Homo sapiens: one gene and its partners. The protein of the gene in region 2 purifies or fractionates together with the protein of the main gene of each other region. This does not show direct contact. Each region holds a gene or a part of one and is shown on either strand. Other genes may lie near its edges.

Region 1 (7,033 bases), on a different chromosome or scaffold from region 2:
TCTGAACAATTAGAGTGGTTAATTACTTGTTTATTTTTAAGTTTATAAAGAGTTGACATTACATTTAAACAACAATTTAATTAGGACAATTTTGAATGTTGACATATCATCAAAAACATATGCCATTTCTAAAAAGTCTAGATTCAGAGCAGGATGCCATTTTAGGTGAACTATGTCTTCACTAATGAAATAGGACGCAGAGAGAAATACTATGTTTATTAAGAACTTTTTGCTTAGAGAAGACAATAAAACATATTTAAGAAAAATATATAATACAAAAAATAAAAAAGGAAAAAACAATGCCTTCTGTAGTCTTATTTCACTACAGATTGAACTAGGGAGATAATTTTCTTCTTCACAGACAAAGATCTTTAAGTTTCTTTTCTCTGATTATTTGATCAAGGAACAAACTATATTACAAACATGGCACAAAATCCAGGCTTTCATTTCTAGCCAACCCTCAAACACCACCAACTACAAAGAAAATTTAAAAGTCTAATTTGTAACCTTCAGATAAGTATAAATTAGTTTTTTCTAGGCTTTCATTATTTGGCTTCTTATACAATCTATCTTGTAAAGTACATTCCTCTAAATTTACATTATCTAAAATTAAGGCTAAGCATTATTTAAATCAATTAATCATACAATATTTTATGACAATATGCACATATTTATAAAATAACTTTTCCAAAAGCAGTAATACCTCAAATTAAAAAAGAAATCTTTTATTGCTTTGAACTATCTGCTAAAATAAAAACACACAGAAAGGGAAGAGGTTTAACAGGTAGGAAGAACATAGAAAACCCTTAAAAGTTTTAAAGTAGTCCAGTTCACTTCTTCCAAACAAAAGAATTCACAGTGTCTCTTCAGGTTTAAAATTCTAAGCATTCAAATTGCCATAGTGCCCTGCAAAAACTAATACATAAGTGAAATTATTATCTATTAAGAATAAAATGGTTTTTAATTATTTTTGACTAATTATATTCCATAAGAGCATTTTCTTAAGAGAGAAAAGTTTGTTTCCAAGGCTTATAATTCAAGCCAATAAATATCAGTAATGTTGACCCCATAACTTCCATCAGTAAATATAAGAAAAACAAAACAAAAACCCTGAAACATTAAAGCACAGGTAAATATAACTGTCTTATACCTTGAATTTTAAAAAACCCTGAATATCAGGTTAATAGTAACCATTTGAAATGAGAAATGAACAGCTTCATAATCCGTCACGGATTAAAATTTTTCCCTCCCTGAGAAAAAATATCACTACAGTAAACTACCCTTTTTAAAAATAATGGTGGTTTTGGCCCTTAAAAGTGATTTGAAAGATCATTTTTTTTTTAATTCAAAAAACCTGTCATAAAAATTGAAAAGCATATTTACAATTTAACATGAAGTCAAATTGTTTGGCACCTATACCAATATTAATCTTATATTTGTGTTACACTGAAAAATATGGAAAAGTATGTGGCATACCAAATATATTATTTCCAGTACTGGTACTTGGGATCACTTAAATTTTTTTACTAACTGAGAACTATCTAGAATGCAGTATAAATATCAAAAGCAGGATACTCACATCGTCATATATGAAATTCGCAGACCCTTGTTGCAAGTGGTCTCTTTTCCTAAAGAAATCTTTAAACAAAGAAATTACTTTTTTATTGTAATTTAAAATACATAGTTTCAAATATTTAGTGCACCCAGGTACACAAAAAGAATAATTTCATATTCAATTAAATATTAAGTGATTGAATAGCCCTGGCAACAGAGATATGAGAAAAACTTCCAAAAATAACATAACGTTTTTATCATTTATATTCCTTAATATTTGAAGCCTTTAAACTAATTAGATTTAACAGTGAATAAAGGGAGAAAACACATATTATTATAAACTTGCTGGAGGAAATGAGACACATTATTCAAGAAAAATAGCTACATAACACTGTGCACTTAGTTTTAAATAGTCAATACCTGTCAATGCTCGAAGCTTCACACAGCAAGCAACATAATCATCAAAGAAAATTCTGCCATTCTTGCTATAACGTTTAACAATAGTAGTTAATGTTTGAGGACTCAACCTATAACCTAAAAAAGAGATAAATTAAAACTTCTAAATGTAAATAACATAAGAACACTGCAAGATTGCTTTCTCATTAAGTCATAAAATAACTTTCAAAATTCATTCCACAAAAATATAATTAGAAACAAAACACATGAATATTGAAATTCATCAGACAAAGGCTTCACTGTTAATCCTGTTAATCGGTATATAAATATCACAATTCTAACTTTGTAATAAAGTCAAAGCTAAGGAAAAGAAAATAATTCTCTTCTTATGAATTTATCATATATTGTTATTTTGAAATAATGTCTAATTTCATGGGTTTTAATGCTTCAATATTTCAAGTATGTAACTTTGTATAGTTCTTAAAGAATATAAATGCAAAGATTACTAATGATCTTTGTTATTCAAATGATATTTCCCACTGAACATATTACTTGCAAGTATCTTTTATAACTAAGAGAAATTTGAGGATCAACATGATTACTCTACAGGGGAAAAAAACAGAAAAACATTCTTTTTTGTCCTGGAATTCTTAGTGTTTCTTCATACACTGTAATAATAATAACAGCTTTCTCGCTATTTCACTGATTTCCTTGGTTCTTTGTTCAGTAGTCCTGTGATGTCCAAAATCTTTGATTTTTACTTATATCAATGAGAAAGAAGTTTTTGATCATTCACTCCCAGTATGTTTAAATTAATTTTAAATTCTATACATGTATTATTGTTTGATTACTCCTATTTTAAAAAATACATAAAATCTAAAATTTAAAACGAATACAACTGAATAAAAACATAAATTAATATATTCTACTTGCTGTACCCTTATAGATGGTCCTATGCATTTAATGAGATGTATACATTTTACTAAGAAGAATGGTAGCCCAGTATTATTGCCCATACATTACTGGATTTGTAGACTTGAACAAATGACACTAATCAATTCAAAGGTGAAAACAACCAAAATAAATGTAACAGGAGAAAATTATACATGCAGCTATAATAGAATGTAATGTGGGAAAGGTATAAATTGAAAGAAGCAGTAAAACATGCAAACTAATGTAATTATATGCAAATATATTTTGAACTTCATATTAGAGAGTTATGAGCTAAATGTGGTACTGATAAAATTCCTAGATTTTCCCATAGTATTCTCAGAAAAATAATTTGAATATTTTAAAATATACATGAAGATCTTAAATTTGGATAATCCAGAATACCCTTTTTACATTCCACTGCCTAACGGGAACTCTGGAGGTTTTCTTTTCTGCCAAAGATTACATTAATTTCCCAACATTAGGCTGAATTAAGGTCCAGGTTTAATCCATTAGGTATTAAGGATCTATAATTGAACTACATATGTTTATATGGGCTGGACTGTCCCTACTACTAAATTAAAATGTCTATTTATAAAACAAAACCAAACAAATCACTAATTTGACTTATTTAAATTGCAATTTGAGATAAGCCCACTTCCATTGGGTTCAGATTTTAACTTCCAAAAAATTAATTTTCATACAAATAGATTTTGTTTAGAAGAGTGTAAATCACAAGCATAAGAACAATTCATAAAGCTACTTAAAACTGCATTAAGTTTAAGCAAATTAAACACCATTGTATGTTATCCATTTTAAAAGTACACTAGGAACATCAGCTTATCAGAGGTATAAGAATAAAGTTATATACTTCTAAATTACTCTAAAATGCAACCTTTCCATCCTGATGTATTTTGGCACCTGCTATGTGTTCTGCACTATCTAAGAAAAAAAAGACAAAAACATGGTTTCTACCACTGAAAACCTATTTTGTACAGACTTTTGACTGACTGAGGCAAGCTTTGGCTCCCAATTAGATATCCTGCCAAGTTATAAAAGAATACAATCTAACTGGTAAGTACTAACAAAGAAATAAATTTAAACACAACAGAAGAAATTCAGAATGTATGCATGTATGGAAGATCATCTTTTGAAAAAAATCATAATTAAAATGGTTTTGTTGAGGTCTTTGGTCAGAATTTACCTACAACCTTGAAAACAAACAAAGGAACTTGCTGGCAAAAAAATACATCCCTTTATTAGTTAGTAAATTGAAGCAATTAAGTTCATCTAATCAAAGAACAAAGATTAGCTTTATAGATTCTAAAGAATGTTAATGTTCTTACCCATAAGACCAATGGCTTGACGCAACTCATGATGTTCTACTGTGCCACTTCCATCTTGATCAACAGTCATGAAGTTTTCCTTCCAGGCATTAAGAGCTGCCCATAGCTCTTTGAATGCATTAAATCCCATTTTTCCTGTGTGATCTCTCTGATAGTTTTATTAACAAAAATAAATTCTGATACCTGAGTTTATCTGACTCTAAATCATTGACTAAAACATGAGTATGCTTCTGTAGACTTAGCCAAACTCATTATATGAACAGACTTCTGCATAAAAACTAGAAAGCCTAGAATTTAAACAGGATCTTACAAAGTATTTTTAAATTCACTAGTTTACTACAGGCACTGAAATCTAACCACTGGCTTGATAGTCAGAAAGCAATTACTCTTTATTCTAGTATTTTCTATTTCTATTCAAGGATACATCCAACATGGCAATCATAATTCTGCAGGTTTCCAAACTGAAGGCTGTAAAACATATTCAATATTTAAATTAGAGTATGCCCAACTTTATCTATGTAAAATTATGACAATCTCCAGTTTCAAAATAAAACATTAAAAAACTGCCAAAATATATAAAATCACCACAATCAACAAGCTATTATTGAATGTTAAGCACCCATTGTTTAAAAAAAATTACTGCCTTCAAAGTACTCACATCTAGTGAGGGGACTAAGTTAATTAAATGAGCAATTACAAACTAACTGAAAATTACTGTGACAAAGACATTCCAGGTATGTAAAGCACTTGGCTTCACCCAAGCCTGGGGAAAAGGAAGGCTTCCAGTCTTCATAACACAAATGACAAGTGGAGTTAAAGTAGAAGTTTGACATGTACTCAGAGATCACAAAACTTGCATTAAAGTATATGGGAGAGAGTGACATATGATGACATCAGAAAGGCAAATGAGGGCCAAATCATGAAACTTTTGAATACTACCCCCAAAAAGTTTGGGCCAATGAAAAGCCACTGAAGTGTTTTCAGAAGCAGAAGGGAAATTCTAAAATTTCCATTTTAGAAACTTAGTTTACAATGAATAAAATATAAAGTGAGATGATATTGGAAATAGGTAAGTCCATTGGTAATTTATTGTAATAGACCAAGTAAGAAAAAATGAGCATCTGAATTGAAGCAACTGGTTTTTCTCGGGGGTTGGGGGGAGAAAAAAGGAAGAAAAAATCAATACAAGCTATCTTAAAACCAGGGGTGATTTGAAATATTAACACTTTCATATTTATAGAACTACAACTGATGACCTATTGATAAAATTCAATTTTTCTAATCCTTTTCTAATTTTTCTAATCCAATTACATTCAATTTGTATGCTGACATATCTCAAGACTAATTTCATGCCCTGATAAAGAAAACATCACGTTAGTACAGTTTAAATTTACAAAGTGCTTAATAGCAGCTTGTTAATATGAATGAATGAAAATTTTCAAAATTATTTTATCCATAACATCTTAACATTTTATAAAAGCAGAAAATTATTTCAGCTAAATTTTAGACCCACTAAAGAAAAAATTATAAGACATTCCAAGAGTTAAAATTGCTGATTTTCTTTAAATGTTTAATATAGTATCAATGTTAGAATTGTTGGTTGTAGTATTTTCAAATTGACAACTCAATAGATACTCAATGTGTTCTTAGCATGAGTAAGGTGGCGTGTGTTACATGATTTCACATAAACATGCTAAACGTATAATAGTTCCAATTGTAAAAAAGGAAGAAACTGGGACCCAGAAAGGCAGTTCCCCACGTTTACAAAGCTAAGGCTATACAACTGTCAGAGTGAGGGGATTACATGAGAAATTTCTGGAATGGTATTTCCTCTTTTGGGCAAGTAAATAATATCTATTTTGCTTTACAATTAACTTGGCACACATTCATAAAGTGGGAGAATCCGAATTAATGATAATAGATCGCTAAAACTGAATCAGCAAATGAGCAGATCTTCAATCTCAGAATAGGAATGTGTATGTATAAGAAGAAATATTTAGGACAAAGAGTGGAGAGACAGACTTTTCAGGAAAGTTGACAGATTTTTCACTTCCTCCCCATAGCCCATTAGAATGGAGAGTAAACTGATTTAAGGCATAAAACTTTAGAGAAAAAGAGAATTAGACAGGAAACAAAGTAACAAAATTTTGCAAGTTGAAGAGCTGATGGATGTGAGTTAACCAACCTAGATCTGAGAAAATGGATTCCTGAACTTGTAATGAGAAAAGCTGAGAAGCAACCCTTGGAGAAGACCCCAAATGCCAAAGAATTGGCAGTACTTCTGAAAGTGGGTGTGAAAGTGGAGATAAAAACAGAAGAATTGGCTGAATGTCTACCTAAGGAGCATTCTAAGCCTCATATCCCCTCCCTGCCTCGGTTCAGTTGGATGGATGCTACACCTACTTCCAACCCAGCAGAAATCTGGAATTTTATTCTCTGGAGGAGTCTCTGAAATGTAAGATACCAGAGCTGAGACAGGGCTATCTTCTAAAAGCAAGGCAATTAAAGGACAATTTACAAAAGATTTGAGAACCCTTCTGAGTCCACCTCTCCTTTCCAGGCAGAAGGTCAACTGAAAACCCAGTCCAAAAGGGAATCCCTAAAGATACTGACACCCAGAGTTCCAAGACAAAACTGCCCAGCCAAATCACCATACAGTGAAGCCCACAATCAATGCCTAACCATGATCTCAGGGCTTCTAATCAGCAATTTAGTTAAAATAAGAGCAAAGCAGTATCATCAGATAACTGAGAAAAGCACCTAACATGAAAGACAACCAAAACAAGCAAAATGAGGAGAAAAAACAA
Region 2 (5,305 bases):
GCAAGGCACTGGGTGGCAGCAACCTTTTTTCTAGTAGTTTTTTCCCAGCAGTTTTCCATTTCTCCACAGTATCCTTTTCATTTAGAGGAGCTTAATAAATGCTTTTTAAAAAGTAACCCACGTGACGTAAAATTTTACAAGTTTTTGTGGCAAAATGATGCCCAGATAGTCACATTTAAGCAAATATTCAGCTTGATTCAGTGATTAACAGCAAATGGGTCTACGTGCTAACATGGCAGCACATTCAACACATAACACATCACTCACATTGACGTCCACTGTCCCTGCACCTGCTACTTCAGGGGCACTGAGGCTCCTGTTCCAAGGCCTTACAAACCTATGTGGTGGCCTGCAGGGCAAAAGGAATTATCATTACAACTGGTTAGAGGTAGGAATTCAGAAAGAAATTGAGGAGGCCAAACACACGTCGTTTGAGGCTAAAGGCTTAAGACGCTTCTTACCCAAGAGTGACCTCAGAGTTTCACATCCCAGACAATCACACTGTGGTTGAGTGAAATCAAGTGCAGTTTTATTTAAGAACTGGAAAGAATAATCAGTATCTGTGAAAGAAAATCCAATTTAGAATATTTAAATAAACATTTATGTAAAAAGAAGAGTAGAATAATTACTCCGTTCAGTTCCTCTCCTTGCAATGGGATAGGCTGCCTCTGCTGCAGATGGCTGGGTCTTCCAAACCCATGACAAGTGCCACGGCCTCTGCAGCAGTGGCCCAGAGAGTAGGCACTTCCCAGCATGACAGAGAGGCCGAGGCCTTCTAACCTTGCCAAACCACTACAAAAGCAAACTAGGGTGGGCAAGCCCAACTACCTAAGGCAGGAAGAAAGTGCAGTGAAGGGACAGTGGTGTGCTGTGCGTATCGTGGGGGTACTCCTAAGCAGCTAGCTGTTGGCGAGATCTTACAAAGCCTGATCGGCTAACGCAGCTTCCTGGTTTAGGAACATTTTCCCCGGTCGTATCAATCCCCCAGGTTGGTAAATGAACAGAAGGGATGAATAAAGCCTACTTTTTAGGCTCAAGGAGCAGCTCGTGAAGGGGTGGCAGGTGCGCTGCTGCCTTGTTTTCTGTCCTGCTAAGAGGCTCACCCCGCGACCTCTTCTGTAAACTGCCACTCAGCAGCGGCCTGCAAGCCCTCACGAAAGGCTTCACTCTATGCTGTTTCCAGGTAGCTTTGTTCTGACAGTACCTATTTTCCACTTCAGAATCTCCACTTTAAAACCTGCAATGGAAAAATAAATCTCTTGACAGTTTTTTAAATCGAGAAAATTGGTGATGTGGCCTTGGCAGCAAATACCCAGAAAGCCTTTACCTCATTAACCTGATTCTCCACGGGCCCTGCCACTGCTAAATTTATAAAGCTAAAAATAATCTCAAGATCATGGAACTAAAAAGAAGTCAATCACTTACCAAATCCTGTCCTTAAGGAGTTCATCTTGGCTGGGCGTGGTGGCTCACGCCTGTAATCCCAGCACTTTGGGAGGCCGAGGCGCGTGGATCACTTGAGGTCAGGAGTTCGAGACCAGCCTGGCCATCATGGTGAAACCCCGTCTCTACTAAAAATACAAAAAAATTAGCTGGGCATGGTGGCCCAAGCCTGTAATCCCAGCTACTCAGGAGGCTGAGGCAGGAGAATCGCTTGAACCCGGGAGGCAGAGGTTGCGGTGAGCCGAAATGGTGCCACTGCACTCCAGCCTCCAGCCTGGGCCACAGAGCAAGACTGTCTTAAGAAAATAAAAAAAATGGAGTTCATCTTTTATCCCTAAGTAATTGCTGACTTCTGCTCTGGGATTATAAACAGGGTGGGAATGTTCTCCCACCATCCCTACCCCTGGAATTCCTCTCCAAAGCAGAGTACGTCAAGTTTTCCCTGGTGTCAGACAGCATTTCACCATGAAACCCTAAGACCTGCCTCCTGGGCTCCTTCCAGCTGGTGGGCCTGGTGTGAAGGTGGGCTTCCTGGGCCTCTGGCAGATGGAGGATGGCATTAAATGCCAACACAGTCAGCTTACCATCCACAAGGCCAGCAGCTGCCAACAGCTGCCCTAGACCTATCAACAAGACAACTTCATGGCTCCCAATGGGAATGGAGGCTGGGCCCGCCCTACTTAGAGCAGGGGAAAGAACTTTTCCCTCAAAGAGCCGGGGCAGGATGCCAGAATCTAACTACATCCTCTCCCGGTTTGCAGTTCTAGGAAGTGGAATTTGCTGCCCTAGGCGTGGTCTAAAGGACAAGTTTAGAAATGATTCAACTCAAGTTCCTAAACAGAGTAAGTGCCAGTTGATGTCCCACCGTGGATCCTTTACTCCAGAAAAATTGTAATGATGGCTCGGCCACCGCCTTGGCTAGAGTCCCACTGCACGCGTGTCGTGAGGGCCGATGGGCAAGTCCGTCCGGTTTTTTTTGTTGTTGTTGTTGTTTTTTGAGATGGAGTCTCGCCCTGTTGCCCAGACTGAAGTGCAAAGGCCCGATCTCAACTCACTGCAACCTCCGCCTCCTGGGTTCAAAGGATTCTCCTGTCTCAGCCTCCTGAGTAGCTGGGATTACAGGCACCCGCCAGCACGCCCAGCTATTTTTTTGTATTTTTAGTAGAGACGGGGTTTTATCATGTTGGCCAGGCTGGTCTCGAACGCCTGACCTCATGATCCACCCGCCTTGGCCTCCCAAATTGCTGGGATTACAGGCGTGAGCCACCGCGCCCGGCCGTCTGTCTGGTTTTCAAACCAATCAATGAACCCGTAAGCCTCTTTGGTATATATAACAATGAAAAAATTCATTAAGCCATGAAATCTAGAAATAAGTCATATTTCTGAGTTGATAAAATGCTTTTCTGAACATACATTTTAGGTATCTGGCACAATTAACCAAATGTCTGCCCATTTTTGTGTAGCTTTCATACAGTACAGATTTCATTGATGTCGCTCCCACATCTGAGTATTAAAAACATTTGACATTGTTCTTCTCAGTCCTCACAACACCCCTGTGAGGTAGGTGGTATTGACCCCATTCCACAGATGGGGAGGTCTAGGCACGGAAAGGTTTAGTGGCTCCTCACAGGCCGCGTGGTGGGGCAGCAGAGTGGTGCTCTGGCCCCGCGCCGACGCCGCCTTCACATTCACACTTCTTCAGTGCCACCGCAACACTGCATGGCAGGATCTCACGCTGAGGCCAAGTTCCTGTCTAGTCCAGAATGAAGCCAGCGTCTCACCTCTTAAAGCTTCGATGTGTGACTCAAAGCCAACTTACTCTCCCAAACTTGCAAAACAAACATACTGACTGAATCTTAGTTGGGACTATTTGCAGTATTTAAGATTATTTTTGAGAGTCAATCTGCTTGGATTTGTAGTTGTATATGCTCAAATCCCTTTGGAAAACAGTTTGAAATGACATGAGGGACAATGTAATTTTGAGAACAGAACACAGAAAACAAGAGTTCTGAGACTGGCATTGAAATTGAGAATATAAGCTATGGTAAAATGAGAATCAAATCCCAAATAAACGGAGAGCAGCACTTCTCAATGTTTAAGGCCACGCACAGGGCAGGCATTCAGTAAGCACTTCTTGGATCAAAAGAAACTGATGCTCCTTTGAGCCGCCTATCACTGACAACAGGAGCTGAGACCCCCGGGAAAGCCAGCCAGGGCCATGATCCCCTTGGCCTGGGGCCACGGTCACACAAAGCCACTCAGCCAAATCGTGTAGAGTTATCTAGGCTTACTTGCTGCAGGATAAAAGTTGAACTAGAACACCAAGCATTGAGCTAGGAATACCCCTTTGAATGTGTACTGCTACTTATAAAAAATAGGTATGTAGCTATGATTAAATAGATGAAGGGCCAAAGCATCCTATGAGGAAGTATTTTTAAAATTGTATAGATGTTCATGCAGTGGGGGACAGAAATAAAGAGGTTAAAGCGGTCTGTGTTTTTCGGTTAAATGAAAGGTTGTAAATGCATTTTTACCGCTGATAAGAAGGGGTACCTGCTACCCCTTTCTGCTGTGGAGTGTTGCTGAGGACAGAGTCCATCTCTCCCAGCGAGTCCTGGTTATCCTTTACTTACACTCTGGCCTCGGGGGCAGTGGCGTGTGGCCTCGGTCCTCCCCAGGTAACTCTGGAGGGCGCTGTGGAATATTGCTGTGATTTGCCCCTTACTCGTCTTTCACCCATGTTCCGCCTTGATTCGGCATAAGGACAGACTGCTCCAGTGGGGCCTTGGGTCCTCAGGCCTTCTGACCGCTTGGTCTTGAGTGACATTCCAGAAGAGTGACTAATGACATAAAACGATTAAGAAAATCCATGTGGCAGCGGCCAACCGGAAACAGTTTTGTCCCAGGCTGCACAGGGTCGGAGGCCCCAAGGTCACCGGGGCCACTGCCCGTCACAGGTCCACCTTGACCCCCTTTATGAAAGGCAGGCCCGTGGGCACCCTCTTCTTATACTCCAGGTACTCCTCTCCAAAAAAGTGAATTAGTGAGATTTCTTCTTCTTCTGTTCGATCGCGGAAGAATCGCCACACTGTCAGGGCATAGCTGACGCCGCAGATGGGGTTACACAGCATCACCTAACAGAGGGAGACACCAGGCTCATCAGGGTGACCGTGGGATGACGCCCTGTGCTTTGGTAGGCGTCTGTCTCTAATACCCAGAGGATTTCTGTGCCCATGCCCTGCTGAGACCGTCAGGGTCTCTGGGAGCAGTACTGTCACCTTAGCCCTGAGCACTCAGTGCTGCAGGCCTTTCTCACGTGCTTTCCTGTTGCTCCTCTTACATGAGAGAGATCTGTAAATCACAAGATCAACCTCTTGGATTTCAACCCTCAGCTTGGGGTGACAGCAATGCCCCCCACCTCCAGGTGTGAGCTCCCCAACATGAGGTCCCATGCACGCTGCCTTCCTGCCCAGGACCCTCCCACCACAAATGCATTCGCTTACACCACAGCTGCCTGGGCCTCTGCCTCCTAAACCCACAGCCTCTGCTTCAGCACGAGATACAGTGCCACAAAACTCAGCTTCCGAAATGCCCCTTCCAGCAGATTACCTCCACGCTCAGAGAGCTCCAGAGACTGAACCCCACCCCCTGAGTCTGGGTTTCCAACCCCAGAAGAGCAGCACTTCGCCCACTTCCCCAGTCTCCTGCCCTCCCCACGCTGTGCCCACTTTGCCTCTTTTTTTTCCCCCGAGACAGATTGTCACTCTGTCACGTGGAGTGCAGTGGCGTGATCATGGCTCACTGCAGCCTTAACTGCTTGGGCTCAAGTGATTCTCCCACCTCAGCCTCCCAAGTAGCTGGG
Region 3 (7,033 bases), on a different chromosome or scaffold from region 2:
TAGCTTCTGTAATTTTGTATTACATACTTAAATCTGTATTTTGGAGGTGCTGTTTTGCTGGGCAAAGGAATGGAATAGATTTTGTTAAAGATAAATATAATGCAAACTGAAGACAGACACAAAAGACTATATATTATATGATTCCATTTATATGAAATATCCAGAAAAGCAAATTTATAGAAATTAGGATCAGTTGTTGCCTATGGCTGGGTGTGGAAGCAGGAACTAACTATAGGCATGAGAGGACTTTTTGGGGGTGATGGAAGTGTTCTAAAACGATTGTGGTGATGGTTGCACAATTCTATATATGGTACAAAAATCGCCAAATTGTACAGTTACAGTGGGTAAATGTAGAGAAATATAAATTATACCTCACAGAGTTGTTAAAAGTTTAAAAGCCTAGAAATATTTGACTTCCGTTTGGAATAGATATATTCGGAGTAGACACAAAACCTGTACACTACCCAAAAACTACTTTGAAAATATCACCCTGAAAGGCTGAACTTGCTGTCAGCAGACCTGCCTCCCTTTCCACACAACTTAAGCAACACTGTGTGTGTTTTTGTTACAGCTCTTTCCAACAACTGATCCTGTGGGTACTTTGCTCCAAGTTCCAGAACAGATCTCTGCTCATCTACCTCAGCCAGCTGGGCAGATTGCTACACAGCCAACTCAAGTCTCTCTCCCACCCACCGCAGAGCCAGCAAAAACAGCTCAGGTAAAGCCGGGGATATGGTTTCATGGTCACTCCTTTGGATAGATGAAAAGAGCAGATATTAACGTGGAATATAACCTAATGTAATCAGGTTAATGTCTTGGTAGATTTTGAAACAAGTTAGAAATTCTGTCTTCACATTTTTAAGCATGTACAGGTAAGAGAATTTTACAAGGATCACATGCAGGTTTTTAAGCAACAGAATAAGTTAATGATGGAAATATTTCAAACATCAAAAATTTTGGGCTAATTTCTTGTCAGCTTTGTATTAGATAATTACATTTAACTTCAGAATGCAGCTCATGAAGTTCAACAGAGACTAGGAGAATCGATGGCTGTACTGTTTTTGTTGTTGTTGTTCACTCAGGCTTATACTTTTTATTAATACTCTTTGTTTTCTGTGGTTTTTCTCTATTACTCTTTTTAAGTTATTTGTCAATTTTGTGAGGGTTGGTTTGTTAAGTCCGGGTATTATAATCTGTAAATCATTTATCCAGGTGCACACAAACTTTATTAAATCATACTTCATTGAGAGCAGCCAAGTGAATGAAGGCCCCGTAGTGGGCTGCTACATGCTGTGTAACTCCTTCTCTCCCTTCAATAAACCTCAGACACTGCATACAACATGTGGCCCTATGGTACATGGTTAAAGTAAGACTTTCAACGTCCATTTATTAAATATTAGAAGTTCCATTTTCTTGTCTAACGTTTTAGATGAAAAGAAATATAAATTAAAGGTCTGATTTTTTTTTTTTTCTTTTGCACCCCAGTAGATCATCTCGTGTTCTGCCTTTGGAGATCACTGCTTTGAGCATTTCCAATTAGTCATGGCACTTACTTCATTTAACTTTGCATCCCTCAAGCTTTCCATTTCTGCTTGGCATATGGGAAAAGATACAGTTGTCTTAGGAAAATTGATGGAAAAATTAGATTCATTTTATAAACAACTTAAATCGAATGCATGTCCTCCCATAAGCAAGCGCTGTACAATTTTCAGAGAGGATTAGTTTAGCCATAAAAAGACTGGAACCTATGTATGGGTTGGATGGATTTCTGAAGGGCAGCTGGTTCAGGGTCTACCTTTTGTACTGCCATATGGTGCACTGGCAGATTTTTTAAAAATGAGAAACCTAGCTTTGTGTTTTTCAGTCTTGTAGAGGGGAACAGGGGTCTCAGAAATATAAAATGTAAATGTGGCTATATGTGAAATTTCATCTGGGCTTGAGAGTTTTCTTTCTCATTGTGTTGGACTTAAACTGACATTCAGCTTTTGTTGCTGCCTTGGAGTGCATGTCCTCCTCCAGCAGGGAATGTCCTGGGGATTAGTATGACCTCAGCTGGAGATGAAGAAAATTGCTGCCAAGTAAATGATTCCTCTGCCAGTGACCATTAGTCACCTCCCCACTTAATGTTTCAGGCAATGACTGTATACCTTTCAATGCTTTTTAGGCTTTGTCTTCAGGATCAGGTTCACAAGAAACCAAGATCCCAATCAGTCTAGTACTAAGATTAAGGTAAGTAGACATTTTTTGTTTTGTTTTCTTTTGTTTTCTGAATATTCTGCATGTGCTGTAATAGTCTGTGCCTGAGAGTAACTGGATAGGATTGTATGTCCTCCAGCATCAAGCTCTGTTTGCTTGGTGGTGTATTATTTTTCCCCAGAAATAATAGCAACAGTGTGAGGACCTGCATGTTAGCAGGTGTTGTGACTAACTGATGCACATGTTCTCTCAGTTGTTTCTGTGCTAATTGGTGATGAGTTTGTGTATTTACAGTGTAGCTAGTTTGGGTTAGGAGGTGTAGCCTGTAATTGAGGAACAGTTTTTAGGGGAGCAGCACTAACTGGCTTATCTGAAGATCAGTCTTATAATTGTGACGAGGTAAACTCTGAGATCAACTAACCCAAGAGGGGAGCACTTTTTGATTGTGGTAGATCAAATAAAGGCCTTGTTTTTAGAAGGTTAAAAGGAAACTTCTAAATGTTTTTGTAGTCTGTTTCTGTTTTGCAGCAAGTACCCTAAATTGGTGGTTCTTGGTGGGAACATATAGAGAGGTCCTGACAGATTGCTCAGCAGGAAGTGCCATAGGTAGCAGTCTGTTCATTTTAACTCCCTGCCCCGCCCCCCCCGCCCCTAGCACTAGTAGCTGGATTCAAATTCCAGAGCTTTCTTGTCAGAATCACTATGGCTGTTGTATTGCTCTAGTTAGGTCTCTTTCTACTCATAAATGCATTTGAAAAAAAATTAGTATTAAAGTATCACTTGAGGCAACTCAGGCCTTTTAAAACTATTACTAACATTTTAAAAAAGAGTTCCACTGAATTACCATTAACTCATTCCCCTTGCACATATAAATTCCTAGTCATCTTTCTGTAAGGTCCTAATTGGAGATAGAGGCAGCAAGAGCTATTTAAGAGAATGTGGTAAGGAGAATCTCATTGCTCCTTGCCACTAGGAGCAATGCATTTATGCCATAAATGTGAAAAACATATTTGGTTACCTTTCCTTTACAGAAGCCTACTTAGTATACCTGGTCTCATCTCAAAAATTCTGAGTTACTAGGATGTCTTGACAACTTCATGCTGTTTTAAATCTACATAAAGAATAACACTTTAAGAAAATTATTGTGAAATGTATTAAGCACAGACTATGTATAGCACTCTTCGGTACTGTGGAAAGGTGGATACTGAGAAAAGAGAAAATTAAATGACTCCCTTAATAATCAAGTCTAGGTTGGAAGTTGATTTGAACTATGTACTTACACAGCTAAAAGCAAATTTCAGGTAGTATATACATGCAGAAGTATAAGTTTGTATGTACCTGTGTAGAAAGAACGCAATGCAAGGGAAAATCATTTGGGGCATGTTATATTTGAGATGGGTAGTTCTATTTTAAGCACAATTTCAGTAACATCCTCAAGTATATTATTCATCAAATAGAAGTAAACCCTCTCCATTATTTATATAAAATAGATTTGAGTCCTAAGTGAGCAGGCATATCTGCCCTTAGATATAGTGTTCTCATTTCTCTGTCTTTAAACAAAACCTCCAGGGATCCTGCTTAATCTCAGTGCATGGTGTGATCATCACTGTAACTGTACCTCACCAGTCAGGTTTGAATTTCTGGAGTCATATAGTAACTCTGCTACCAGTATGGACCCAATTCCTTTCCCTATCCTCTCTGCCTACCTAAATCCTGCATATCTGTTAAGTCCTATATAAAAACTACCTCTAAAATTTTTCCTTATTATCCCCATCTCTCATATATTCTTTGAATTCCTATGGAATTTGAGGGAGTATCATGTATTTCATTTTATGAGTCTGCCAAGACTGATCACCAGAGGTAGGCAATGAATTGTGGGCATGTAGGAGTGGGGATAAGGATGAAAAAGGCATCCTGTATCATTTTAATCACACCTCCCTGTGCTCATACAATTTTCCTCTTAGTTTTATATGTTCTTGGTGTGGGAATAAGGATGGGAGTGGGCATATAAGAATCTACTCAAAGGCATGAAATTTTTATATTGATCAGTAAGGGACATAGATTCAAAGGGTTGTAGGACAATTAGATGGTCATTCCGAATTGGTTTTGCTCTGAGCTCTGCAGTGTGAACATATCTGAATACATCATATGATCTATGGGAACAAAACAGACTTTCTTGAGGCACAGCTTTCTTAATATATGTTGGCAGAATCTCTTTGCATAAATTTAGAAATTCTTATTTTATGCATTCTGCTTTCTTTCATAGGAATTCCAAAAAAGAACTAAATGATATTCGATTTGAATTTACTCCTGGGAGAGGTGAGGCATCAAATGGATTGAAAACAAAATAGCTTCCAATTTGTGATTCAATGAAATGTGTTGTGAAGTTTCTGTCCTTTGTGAAGTTTTGCTTTTAAAGGATAATAAAAATTTTCCTGGTTTTGGCGAGTATATGAGTGAGATAAAAATGCAGTTCGTTGACTACTAAACACATTTAGAAAACCTTGTATAATAATACAAACAGTAATAAATATATGATAGCTCTTTACAGCTTACTATAGGCCAGGCATTGTCTTAAGCGTTATCTTATTAAATTCTCACAGCAGTCTACTAAGGAAAAATTATTATCCCCATAGTATCGATGATGAAATCAAGACTTAAAGGCAAAGTAACTTGTTCAAGGTCACACAGCTGGAAAGAGGTATAGCTGGAATTCAAACCAGATCTGTCAGAATCCAAAGTTCATTCTTTATACATGGTTGTTCTCCATGATGGTAAAGAAACAAGGTCTGCAGTCTCCTCTCTCCTCAGACAGAAGCTGAGGTCTGTCATGTACTGTTTCTGGCTGTTGAACTTCACCTTGAACAAGGTGTGTTTTGTTTCTTGCCTTTATTACTCAGTGTTCTAATTTGGGGAGTAGCCAGCAAGTATCTGTTCTGTGTATCATGCTTATTCTTCTTGCTGTCTCACTATCATGAGCAACTAACCACTAAAGAGAAAAGATGCAGGTGTACAGAGGTGTCACCTGTTTTACTTTTTAAACACCAGGCAACATCACATTTTCAGGAATTAATTCAAATTGCTGGTTGCCTGTGTGAATGTGTGGACACTGTCTCCACCGCAGTCCTCCTGTTCCCTCTGAGGGGCTCATTTTCAAGCCCTTGGCAACCAATACCACTGAGTTGGTTGAAGATGAGGTTAATTGGGGATATTCTGTCCTCATCTTTTTAGTTTCTGGTTATACCCATTGCTCAGATTGTACCACCTGGAATAACTAGATAAGAAGAAAAGCCCACCAGAATAAAAAAGTAAATGATTTTAGCAAAAAACTTGGAGTATGATTCCCAAAGAGAAGAGACAAAAATTTTTTGAGACAAAAATTGTTGCCTTAGTTTTTGAGAATAAATCATTCTGGTTTTTTAGCCCTAGAGATGTTCAGTATTCAACATCATGTCTCAGATATTTGCTACCTGGTTTATACAGATTCTGCCCTCTAGCTAGATCTGTGAGAATTCCACTTGAGATAATCTCAGTGGTAGGAAAAGTCTTTGTATGGAAGGAAGGCCCTGCCTGCCTTCTTGGTTCTGTGGATTTAGCATCCAGCTTGGGCCTAGCATGGCACACTGACACCCACATGAGCTGTGAGAGTTAACAGTGGCAAGCACGCACAAAAAACAGAGCACTGTCTTCTTTGTCCTTGCAGATACAGCAGAGGGTGTCTCTCAGGAACTCATTTCTGCTGGCCTGGTCGACGGAAGGGATTTAGTAATAGGTAACTCCATTGCGTTCTGCTCATGTGCTCCTGTGTCTCTGTCTGTATACTTAGTACATAGAAAAGCAGGTTTTTTATTCCACTGAGTAGGTCTGATGGTTCTTGAAATGGTTCTTGGCTTTCCTGAAATTATAGGTAATGGGACAGTTCCTTACACACACACAAAATTTCACCTCTGAGTTTGCTTTGTGACCTCCAATGATGGTAAGTGAAAGCACACCCAAGGTCTTTAGGAGATTAATAGAAATTATGGCAAAAGTCACAAGTTAAAGTAAGCTTGGCCATATCTGATCTGTTTTGGATACCTAATTTTTGTGGCCCAAGTTGAGCAAAAGTCATTAGAGATTTAGTACTAGAAAAGCAGGAAGGAAGAGAGAAGGCCCAGTGAGGCCACAGGTCCATGTTACTGAAGGAAAAGACCATGTCCTTAGACACAGTTTTCCGTGAAAAACCAGATAATAAATAGTTTAGGCCTTGCGGGCCATGTACAGTGTCTGTCACTTTTAAACCACTCTTAGCTTGCCGGAGAACAAAAACAGACCACAGGCTGGTTTGTTGACTTCTGGCCTTGGGCTTTCTGATCCATAAATCAGGAAATCATACCTCTTTTACCTGCATGTTTTTCCTAGGTTAATACAACATTTTAAAGAAAGTTAATTTGACAGTGGTTCAAGGTGTACTACTCAGAAATGAGTTTAAAAGACACTTTCATTAGGGGAGTGATTATTTGATCTGTCTGCTTCCATTTTGATTGTACGGAGCATATTCTTAACTACCATTTAAGCTTTTAAAATATGGTTGAAAGTGGATTTATGTAACTTCTCATTCATTACCTTCTCTGTTTGTATGATTACAGTGGCAGCTAATTTGCAGAAAATTGTGGAAGAACCTCAGTCAAATCGATCTGTCACTTTCAAACTGGTACTCATCCCTTCTTCCTTGTGAAAACATCTTGCCTTTTATACACTGGCAGCTTCTCCAGACCAGCTTCTATATCCCCTGAGTGATGAGAATATTAAAATGTGGTGGATTGTGTTCATTTAGCCTCCCCAGTGCCCTGGGCTG

What was found.
Region 1: the proteins of ICMT (region 2) and GCA purify together in Homo sapiens (affinity purification with mass spectrometry; 2 studies listed by BioGRID and IntAct, with this or other methods). This does not show direct contact.
Region 3: the proteins of ICMT (region 2) and OXSR1 purify together in Homo sapiens (affinity purification with mass spectrometry; 2 studies listed by BioGRID and IntAct, with this or other methods). This does not show direct contact.

The regions. Positions count from the first base shown.
Region 1 is NC_000002.12:162,354,099-162,361,131, reverse strand, and holds part of GCA (grancalcin), read right to left. Parts: intron 4,695-7,033; coding exon 4,651-4,694; intron 4,375-4,650; coding exon 4,227-4,374; intron 2,089-4,226; coding exon 1,975-2,088; intron 1,639-1,974; coding exon 1,580-1,638; intron 916-1,579; coding exon 889-915; 3' UTR 1-888. UniProt on the Homo sapiens protein: Calcium-binding protein that may play a role in the adhesion of neutrophils to fibronectin. May play a role in the formation of focal adhesions.
Region 2 is NC_000001.11:6,220,686-6,225,990, forward strand, and holds the end of ICMT (protein-S-isoprenylcysteine O-methyltransferase), read right to left. Parts: intron 4,578-5,305; coding exon 4,395-4,577; 3' UTR 508-4,394; downstream 1-507. UniProt on the Homo sapiens protein: Catalyzes the post-translational methylation of isoprenylated C-terminal cysteine residues.
Region 3 is NC_000003.12:38,245,504-38,252,536, forward strand, and holds part of OXSR1 (serine/threonine-protein kinase OSR1), read left to right. Parts: intron 1-571; coding exon 572-718; intron 719-2,164; coding exon 2,165-2,229; intron 2,230-4,462; coding exon 4,463-4,515; intron 4,516-5,899; coding exon 5,900-5,968; intron 5,969-6,824; coding exon 6,825-6,889; intron 6,890-7,033. UniProt on the Homo sapiens protein: Effector serine/threonine-protein kinase component of the WNK-SPAK/OSR1 kinase cascade, which is involved in various processes, such as ion transport, response to hypertonic stress and blood pressure.